Linked DNA regions of Homo sapiens: regions 2 and 3 are each reported to be linked to region 1. The links are microRNA targets in miRTarBase. Many come from high-throughput screens and were not tested one by one. Region 1 holds a microRNA gene; each other region holds the end of a gene's coding sequence.

What was found. Region 1 holds the annotated microRNA hsa-miR-6514-5p (UAUGGAGUGGACUUUCAGCUGGC, at 1,754-1,776, opposite strand). A microRNA usually pairs through its seed, bases 2 to 8, with sites in the 3' UTR of a target mRNA and lowers its output. Matches are read on the target gene's strand: a 7mer-m8 pairs with bases 2 to 8, a 7mer-A1 pairs with bases 2 to 7 and ends in A, and an 8mer does both.
Region 2: the mRNA of RAB40B is a reported target of hsa-miR-6514-5p. Seed matches in the 3' UTR shown: 7mer-m8 at 940-946.
Region 3: miRTarBase lists TECPR1 as a target of hsa-miR-6514-5p. Seed matches in the 3' UTR shown: 7mer-m8 at 1,267-1,273.

Annotation. Positions count from the first base shown.
Region 1 is chr11:62,790,996-62,794,243 of GRCh38, forward strand. MIR6514 (microRNA 6514) reads right to left here and starts at 1,776; the gene lies at 1,707-1,776. It overlaps TMEM223 (transmembrane protein 223), which reads right to left and starts at 1,011. Exons shown (of 2, transcript NM_001080501.3): 1 at 684-1,011. The coding sequence starts at 999. NXF1 (nuclear RNA export factor 1) reads right to left here. Exons shown (of 21, transcript NM_006362.5): 20 at 1,646-1,706; 21 at 1,135-1,519. The coding sequence ends at 1,481. RefSeq lists an enhancer at 411-920 and a silencer at 991-1,140.
Region 2 is chr17:82,655,032-82,658,279 of GRCh38, forward strand. It overlaps RAB40B (RAB40B, member RAS oncogene family), which reads right to left. Exons shown (of 6, transcript NM_006822.3): 6 at 1-3,103. The coding sequence ends at 2,832. Among named protein-coding and RNA genes, the nearest start is that of WDR45B, 8.2 kb to the left of the region's middle.
Region 3 is chr7:98,214,616-98,217,854 of GRCh38, reverse strand. It overlaps TECPR1 (tectonin beta-propeller repeat containing 1), which reads left to right. Exons shown (of 26, transcript NM_015395.3): 25 at 44-163; 26 at 352-3,231. The coding sequence ends at 465. It overlaps BHLHA15 (basic helix-loop-helix family member a15), which reads right to left. Exons shown (of 2, transcript NM_177455.4): 2 at 2,398-3,239. Among named protein-coding and RNA genes, the nearest start is that of BHLHA15, 4.8 kb to the right of the region's middle.

The sequences.
Region 1 (3,248 bases):
AAATTTGTGGGATGAAAGTAGTATTTACTGAGCGCTTTTTTTTTTGAGACTGAGTCTCACTCTGCCGGCCAGGCTGGAGTGCAGTACTGAGCTCCTGTTATACCCAGTAATCTTGTTATTCCTCCCAACAACCTTAATAGATGTCCGTTTCCATTTTAATGGGAAGATGGAGAGCTTTAAGGACCTTGCTCAAGGTCGCAGAGTGAAGGGCAGCCCTCAGCCTAGGCTATGACAGGGCACGGCGCTCGGAGACATCACTGTTTCCCAATTTTTTTTTTTGAGAGGGGAGTCTCGCTCGGTCGCTTAGGCTGGAGTGCAGTGGCGTCATCTCGGCTCACTGCAACCTCCGCCTCCCAGGTTCAATTGATTCTCCTGCCTCAGCCTCCCGAGTAGCTGGGACTACAGGCGCTTGCTACCACGCCCAGCTAATTTTTTGTATTTTTAGTAGACACAGGGTTTGACGGTGTTAGCCAGGATGGTCTGGATGTCCTGACCTAGTGATCCGCCCGCCTCCGGCCTCCCAGCATTTGAGCCGCCGCGCCCGGCCAGTGTTTCACATTTCTGTGGGGTAAAGCCCGCCCGCCACTCTCGGATAGGGAGTCCCTGACTCTCCCTGCCTGTATAGGGAAGGTCGTGTCCCGCCACCCCACGTTGTCACAGTGGGAAGCCAGCCCACGTCTTACCGATGGCGCCGCAGCCGACGGCCAGACCGTAGCGCCAGAGCGCGGAGCGCAGGTCGAAGGGGCCACGATTTGGGACCTCCGCATCCAGAGGCTGCACCGGAACCGGGGGCCGGGACACGGCTGCCACAGCCATGGAAGCCCAGAAGACGCCCTGGCCCGCGCAGAACAGCCCGAGGATGGTGAAGAAGCGGCCCCGATCATGCTCAAAGAGCAGCACATCCCGTTGCAGCGTCGTGCCTTGCAGGGGCCGGCAGGTGAGCAGGGGCCGCAGCACGGCTAGCAGCCCCGTGGGCCATCGCCTCCAAGGCGCCGCCATGGCCAGCCGACTTCCGGGGTGGGGCTTCCTGCCGCAGAGCCGCCTTCCGCCCTCCCTGGGCGCCCCCGCTAGAGGGCCCGCCCCCCTCGCTCAGGGCTGGGAGGAGACAACCAATCCAGCACGCAGAACACGAAATACAACATCACTCTTTATATTAAAAAGTGCAGAACACGAAATACAACATCACTCTTTATATTAAAAAGTAAGGAGGTCCTGGGGTTAAGTACACAAAGCACCTAAGTCCTTCGGGTAGTTTAGTGTCAGTTCTACAAAGTAAGCTTTGGCTTCCTGGCACCAGTGAGGCTCAATCTTCTGAAGTCTTCCAGAAGGCAGGCGAGGAGAGGGATCAGGCAGCCCTCCCTCCCTCGGTCACAGTCACGGGGCGGCCTCGGGCCAGACAGGAGGAGATGACAGACGACAACCAGACGGTAATATCCAAGGACTATTTACAGGGGGGACTGCTTCTGAGGCATGACTACGATCACTTCATGAATGCCACTTCTGGGATCTCGCCCTTGGCCTGGAGAAAAATGAAGGTCAGTAGAGGTAGGCCTACCCTCGCCACTCAGCAACCCCACTCAGCTAACCTGACCTCCTGGAGGCCCAGAGATCCTAGTCTTTTTGCCACTGTATTTCCAGACCTTACCTTGAGATGAGTGAAGGCCTGGGCAGATCTGGTGTAGTCCCAGTTGTTGTCCTGAAGGCACCTGGAGTGGAAGAACAGGCAGCTCTGTAAGAACTCTGACTCGTAAATGCCAGCTGAAAGTCCACTCCATAAAAGCACCCAAGTTTGCCAACAAATATGTACATTCTTATACATCCTTGCACTATTTATACAAATGAGACATTAGTAAAAGTCCAGATGTTCTACCAATGGCTTCTCAAAGATAAGGAATATTAAATAGCTGTCAAGAAGCTCAAGATAGTTTTTACAGTGGTAGGGAAAGATGTTCATGGTGTAAGTAAAGAAACTAAGTTGCAGAACAGTATATGAAAAGGAACTTCCATTTTACCTTTAAAGTTTTTTATGTTAATTTATACACAGGCAAATTTTTTATAGACTATCAGGTTTGTGTTTTTCTGTTTGCTTTTTTTTTTTTTTTGAGACCGAGTCTTGCTCTGTCACCAGGCTGGAGTGCAGTGGCGTGATCTCGGCTCACTGCAACCTCCGCCTTCCAGGTTCAAGCAATTCTCCTGCCTCAGCCTCCCGAGTAGTTGGGACTACAGGCGTGGAACGCCAAGCCCCGCTAATTTTTGTATTTTTAGTAGAGACGAGATTTCACCATGTTGTCCAGGATGGTCTTGATCTCTTGACCTCGTGATCTGGCCGCCTCAGCCTCCCAAAGTGCTGGGATTACAGGTGTGAGCCACCTCTCCCAGCCAACTATTAGGTTTTTTTAAGCAGCCAAAAGTTTTGCCTTTTAAAATTTCAGGAGCCCAGGCACAGTAACTCACACCTATAACCGCAGCACTTTGGGAGGCCTAGGTGGGCAACATGGTGAAACCCCATCTCTGCAAAGAAATACAAAAAAATTAGCCAGGTGCTGTGGCCTATGCCTGTAGTCCCAGCTACTCAGGTGGCTGAGGTGGGAGAATCACCTGAGCCCTAGCAGTTGAGGCTGCAGTGAACTGTGATCACACCACTGTACTCCAGCCTGGGCATCAGAGTGAGACCCTGTCTCAAAACAAACAAGCAAATAAAAATTTGGCTGGGTGCAGTGCCTCATGCCTGTAATCCCAGCACTTTGGGAGGCCGAGGTAGGCAGATCACAAGGTCAGGAGTTCGAGACCAGCCTGGCCAACATGATGAAAGCCCGTCTCTACTAAAAAAAAAAAAAAAAAAAAAAAATACAAAAATTAGCCAGGCATGGTGGTGTGTGCCTGTAATCCCAGCTACTCGGGAGGCTGAGATTGGAGAATTGCTTGAACCCGGGAGGCAGAGGTTACAATGAGCCAAGATCGCACCACTGCACTCCAGCCTGGGCAACATAGCAAGACTCCACCTCCAAAAAAAAAAAATAATAAAATAAAATAAGGTGGCACATGCCTATAGGCCCAGCTACTCTGGAGGCTGAGGTGGGAGGACAGCTTGTGCCCAGGAATTAGAGGCTACAGTGAGTTATGATCACCACTATACTCCAGCCTGGATGACAGCGCAAGAACTTGTCTCCAAAAAAAAAACAAAAAAACTGTCAGGAGCCCTCATTATTTACTACTAGCCCTACTTCAGTGCATCCCCATCCTACACA
Region 2 (3,248 bases), not on the chromosome of region 1:
ACTTAGTCCGGTCTGTATTAGGTTTCGTCTGTTTTTGTTCTGCCTTGGTTTGCTGTAGCACTTTCTGCCGTGAGCGTAACTCACTTCCTTGTAGGAGTTTCCTGAGGCTGCCGTAACAATCGCCACAAACCTGGTGACTTAAATAACAAATATTTATTTTCTCGTAGCTCTGGAAGCCGGAAGTCCAAAACCAATAACTTGGCAGGGCTGTGCTCCCTCTGGGAGATCTCGGGGAGCCTCCTTGCTACATGTTCCGCTTCTGGGGACTTCTGGTGGTGTTTCCCTGGAGGGCCAAGGCCTCCGGGCGGCCCGTGCATTCGGTGAACACCTCCAAAGAGCTCTGAGTCACAAAGCCTTGGGAAACTTTATTTTATTCTTTCTAGGACATTATCAGTAGTCCCGAGGAGACATCAATTACAAAACAAGAAAAAGGAAGGAAGAGAAAAATACAGGTTTGGCCTGGTTTAATGTTGCAATGGGAGGATCCATTTCCTTACCCTTCACCATCAGCGAGCTGGGAACGGAGGGAGAAGAGGCCCCTCAACGTGGGTTTCTTCAACGTGGACTCTCCTTTCTGTGCATCTCAGTGTCCTTGTGTTTGCAGCTGGGAGGTCGGCCCTGTCGTTCTCACCCCACCTGTGGCACAGCAGAGAGAAGGGTGCACAGGTCTTTGCAGCGTGCCTGCACGAGGCTGGCCACCCTCTCCAGACACTGTCCCCTCAGGGTTCACCTTCTGCCCACAGACCACACCCCTGCCTCCCCGTGGACTTTGTCCCCGTGGCTGCCGTGCCCAGGTGGCCAGACACCCCCAAGCCTGGGTCCACCCGCAGGGACCAGTGCTCCTCTCTCCTGTCTGGGCCTCGGTTCCACCATCTCTGAATACAGGCTTTGCCCCTGATTCTAGGGTCCCTTAAATTTCTTTTTTTTTTTTTTTTTTAGATGGAGTTTCACTTGTCGCCCAGGCTGGGGTGCAGTGGTACGATCTCGGCTCACTGCAACCCCTGCCTCCCAGGTTCAAGTGATTCTCCTGCTTCAGCCTCCTGAGTAGCTGGGATTACAGGTGTGCGCTGCCATGCCAAGCCAATTTTTGTAATTTTATTAGAGACGGGGTTTCATCACGTTGGCCAGACTGGTCTTGAACTCCTGACCTCTGATCCGGCTGCCTCGGCCTCCTGAAGTGCTGGGATTACAGGTGTGAGCCATCACACCCAGCTGGGTCCCTTAAGTTTCTAAGAATCTACAGATCATCAGCAGGAACTAGGAACATCTGGGTATTTTCTCGCTTCGTTTTTTTGGTTTAGTCCCTCATTTGCGACCCCCAGCCACAGAGAAACGTTCAACAGTGTGACCAGGGAAGAGAGCGGCCCTGGAGGTCTTTGCGGTCAGCCCTGCTCTGAGGCAGTCGGGGTCAGGGGCTACATCTTCATGCGGAATTCCTGACAGCCCCTCGGAGCTCCTCACCGAGGCTCAGGAGCACGGCTCTGATTTCTCAGACAGGCACATGCCTGGGTGCCAGCTTTTAACTCTCCGCTCTCTCCTCCTCTGCACTTCTGTTCCGGAAAAGGAATCCTTTCTCAACAGGCGACAACAGTTCAAGGATTCAGCCTTGTTGCCAGTGTCGTGTATTAGCTCCGATATGTGATGTCTACACCAGGCAGTGGCGCAGTGAAGTAAAGGGCTATAAGAAATACACAAAATCTGGCCGGGCGCAGTGGCTCACGCCTGTAATCCCAGCACTTTGGGAGGCCAAGGTGGGTGGATCACCTGAGGTTAGGAGTTCAACACCAGCCTGACCAACATGGTGAAACCCCATCTCTACTAAAAATACAAAAATTAGCCGGGCGTGGTGGTGCACCTCTGTAATCCCAGCTACTCGGGAGGCTGAGGCAGGAGAATCGCTTGAACCCGGGAGGCGGAGGTTGTGGTGAGCCCAGATCGTGCCATTGTACTCCACCCTGGGCAACAAGAGCGAAACTCTGTCTCAAAAATAAATAAATAAATAAATACAAAATTCGAAAGAACCGGTCGCCAACTCTACCAAGAGAGAAACAACTATACATTTTATTGTTGAGAAACATTTTCCTAAATAAGTGTTTTCACTTCATTCTTTACTGAAACAGCTCTTCCTTGACATGTCGAAACTGTGCTGGCTGTGTTCAACATAACTAGAGGTATCTTTGGCATTTTCTTCCCTTAGCTTCATAACTTGTAGAATATCTTGTACAAAAAACTGTAGATTTACAGAAAAATATGCATATAAATCACTTATTAATCCCAAAATGTAGTAAATAACTAGCAAAAACTTTATCAAATCCATTTCATACACAAACTGGACAGATCAGTTGCACATAACCTCTACATCTGCAGCGTTTTATAAATTGGCGCTTTGACATTGAAAAGGAGGTTTACAAAAAGACCCCTCTCGTAATATCAGTGACTCTAAATTATCCCGCTGCCATTGCTTCTCAAATTCCATTGAATTTATACTAATCACTCCAATATCACCGTTCTTACAAAAGCAGTTATTTTAAGGAAAAAGTTGCAGTGCAATCATGATAAAGTAACATTCAGAATTTCATGTTACCAAGAGTCGAGCAGAGTACTAATTTTCCCTTTACAAACACACATCGAAAACAAGAGCTTCATGCACATCCACGTAGAAATTCGAAGTCCGACGGGGTAGTGTGTTTCCATCACACGGAAGGCGTCGCACACATTCGCAAGCAGCATTCGCCGAGAGGAACCGGGATCTGAGATGCATCCACCAGCTGCCGGGGGTAACGCCGAGCTTCTCCTGGAGAGATTCCGCCGTGTTTCTTTCAGTGCCTTCCTTAAGAAATTTTGCAGCTGTTTCTGGTGCAGTTTTTGGGGGGGCTCTGGGGGGGGCGGACGAGCTTCACTTTGCGGAGGCTGCTCCTTTTGTGGGTGGAGCTGGTGGTGAGGGAGTAGGAACCGCCGTGCATCATCCTGGCATTCAGGCCGTTGGCCATCGAGAAGGACTTGAGGTGGCTTCTTAAGGCAATGGGGAGCGGGAGCTTGTCCACCAGGTGCACCGGCGTGCAGGACACGACCGCCCGGCAGCAGAGGTCTTGCAAGCTCAGCACTTGGGAGAGAAAAGATAAACCTTGCTTAGTGGATGTCCCCACCTGGGCTGGGAATGAGGGGTGGTGCCCACACCTGTTCTCCCGCCCTCCCAAGGCTCGGACGCCCGTGGCCCTGGCTTGTACATGCAGCAAGCCCTGCCGCGA
Region 3 (3,239 bases), not on the chromosome of region 1:
CACTGCAGGTAGGGCTGAGGGCTTCATGGGGTCTGTGCTCCAGGTCTGGGTGATCGCCAACAAAGTGCAGGGCAGCCACAGCCTGAGCCGGGGGACAGTGTGTCATCGCACCGGCGTGCAGCCTCACGAGCCCAAGGGCCACGGCTGGGACTACGGCATCGGGGTGAGCGGGGCCCGCGGCCTTGGGCTGTGTTATCACCTTGTGCCTGCACTGGGTGCTGAAGACGGGACGACCACTGTGGGACTGTCCCCTGGGACCCGGTGTCTGGGTTGCAGGGAGGCCCCCAGGCAGATCCCCTCCAGGATCCTCGAGTCCCCGAGTCCCCTGGTGACACAGCTCTCTCCTTCCAGGGAGGCTGGGACCATATCTCTGTCCGGGCCAATGCCACCAGGGCCCCCCGGAGCTCGTCCCAGGAGCAGGAGCCGAGTGCCCCACCAGAGGCCCATGGCCCCGTCTGCTGCTGAGGCCCCCCCACACACCTACATGCAGGGACGGTGCCCAGTTTGGGGGATCAAGGCTGAGCCATTCTTGTGCTGGAGTGTGCACCGTGGGAGCAATGTGGCCCAGGTGGACTCAGGAGGGAACCTGGCCCCAAGGCTGCGGCCACTTCAGAGGCACTGGCTGAGACGGCCCTGAAATGTGAAGCTCCGCGGACACTCCCACACGTGTCCCCGTCTGCGAGGAGTCCCGGGGTGTGGGGCATGGGGTGGGGCTGCACCTCCCAGAGGCCCCTCCCACCCTTCCCTTCCCCTCTCCCTTCTGCCTTTCCAGGACTAGAACCGGGAACCTGGAGCCCTCCGGGAACGCCGGCCCTGGGGCAGCAGAGCCAGGATGGAGCCCTCCTGAGCTGGCATCTCAGACAGCACCCGGGCCCGCCACCCCTCACCAAGAGAGATGGCCATGGGGCTCAGGGCCTCTTTACCATGTGCAGTGACCATTTCTCAGAGCAGGACTTGCAAAGAGGCTTTAATTTCAAAAGTGAAGGAAGGAGGCCAGGCGCCGTGGCTCACGCCTGTAATCCCAGCACTTTGGGAGGCTGAGGTGGGCAGATCACCTAGGTCAAGAGTTTCAAACCAGACGGGCCAACATGGTGAAACCCCATCTCTGCTAAAAATACAAAAAAAAAAAAATTAGCTGGGCATGGTGGTGGGTGCCTGTAATCCCAGCTACTCGGGAGGCTGAGGCAGGAGAATCGTTTGAACCCGGGAGGCGGAGGCTGCAGTGAGCCGAGATCATGCCACTGCACTCCAGCCTGGGCGACAGAGACTCCATCTCAAAAAAAAAAAAAAAAAAAAGTGAAGGAAGGAGACAGCAGATTGGAAATAACACTGGAGTGGATGGGATGTCCTCTTCCCTGAGGGGGCCGGGGTACCAGACGGGAGGCTGGGAGAGGATGAGAGGCTGCCCCATGGCTGGAGGCAGTGTCCGTGTGTGCAGTCACCATCATCAACCCCCATTCGGCCCCTTCCCCAGATGCGCTGGTGACAGGGGCTTCTTGGATGTCAAATCATGTTGTAGGAGGGTGCAGACTGCGGGCTTCTGTGGGGAGCAGTACTACTGTGTCTGTCGGCAGTGGCCATGGGACCCTCAGCCCGTCCTGTACATGGAGCAGGGTGCACAGTCACCCTCCATCCTGTGGCGAGAGGCTGGCCCGGCCCGGCCAGGCGAGGCAGAAGGTGTCGGCCAAGTGGCCCCGACCCCATCCCGCAGTCTCTCAGCTGCTTTTTATTACCTCTGTGCCCCATTTGGGAGTTTGCTTCCTCCACCTGGACACTTTGCCCGGGAGGTCATCAGAGCCCAACCCCAGGCTCTGCTCGGTTGGAGAGGGGATGACTTCACCACCACCTGACCTTCCTAGGGTCCTGGTCTCACTGTCAGCTGGGGGTCCGTTGTGTGTATTTGTACAGTTTTGCTGTATGGGGTTTGTCACCCAAAAGCTGATGCTGAGAAAGGCCTCCCTGGGGCCCCTCCCGCGGGCATCTGAGAGACCTGGTGTTCCAGTGTTTCTGGAAATGGGTCCCAGTGCCGCCGGCTGTGAAGCTCTCAGATCAATCACGGGAAGGGCCTGGCGGTGGTGGCCACCTGGAACCACCCTGTCCTGTCTGTTTACATTTCACTATCAGGTTTTCTCTGGGCATTACGATTTGTTCCCCTACAACAGTGACCTGTGCATTCTGCTGTGGCCTGCTGTGTCTGCAGGTGGCTCTCAGCGAGGTACGGGGAGGGCGTCACCCTGCAGAACGGCAGAGTGACGCGTCCTCTCGCTGCTGAGCACCAGCTGTTTACCTGCCCTGCATCACTTCCTCGGATACTTTACTCAATAAGCATTTCCCCTGGAGTGTCCGTGCCCTGGTGTTTTTTATCGATACGTTGATTAAAACGCGTGGTTCCCCGTGTGCCTGAAGCAGACATTGCTGTGAAATCTTTTATTTTTGTTTTATGACACAGCATCAATTTCATGAATACTTTGAAAGGGCCATTAGAAAAAATAAGAGCCAATTTGGGTCATTTGAGAAACATTTTCAGCACAATTACAGTGGGGGCACGGGCCGTTCGGCTCCAGCTGGGTTTTCCCAGATGCAACAATCGCGGTTCTGGCTTCTCCACTGGTGGGGATGGGGATCGCGCCTTCGGAGCTCTCAGGGCGCCTGTCTGTCGGGGGCTGGGTGCGTCCACAGCCCCGGGGGATGGCGCGTGGCGTAGCCCAGGAACGGCATGTGGGTGGGTCTCTGACCTGCTTGTGCAGGGACTTGAGGGACCTCATCCCGATGGCCGAGGCAGGGGCTCCCCACGGGATAAAAGGATCCGGCCTGGCCTTGGGGTCCAAGAGGAGGGCCAAGGGAGTGGACCTGGCCCCTGTCCCCTCTCCTCCTCGAAACACTGGACACCCTGAAGCGAGACTATGGCTGCTGAGGATCCTGTGTGATGTGGCCGCGGGGCGTCCCCTCTGGCCTCAGGGGAAGAAGGACTGGGCGGCTCGGCCCAGGTCACCCTCTAGGAAGCAGAGGAGGTGCAGGTGCCAGTTCAGGGCAGAAAGAAAGAGCCACTGAGGCCATTGTCCTGAAGGCGGTGACCCCCAGGCACTCCTGCTGCCCCCCAGGAAGCCCTGGGCTGCGCTGGACACCGGGCCGAGTCTCCGTCTTCTGGACCGAGGCTCTTCTGGGCTTTCAGGCTCAGCTCGTCGGTCCATTCAGCAAGTTCAGGGGCAGACTGAGCCCTGCTCTGGCCATGGCTCAGC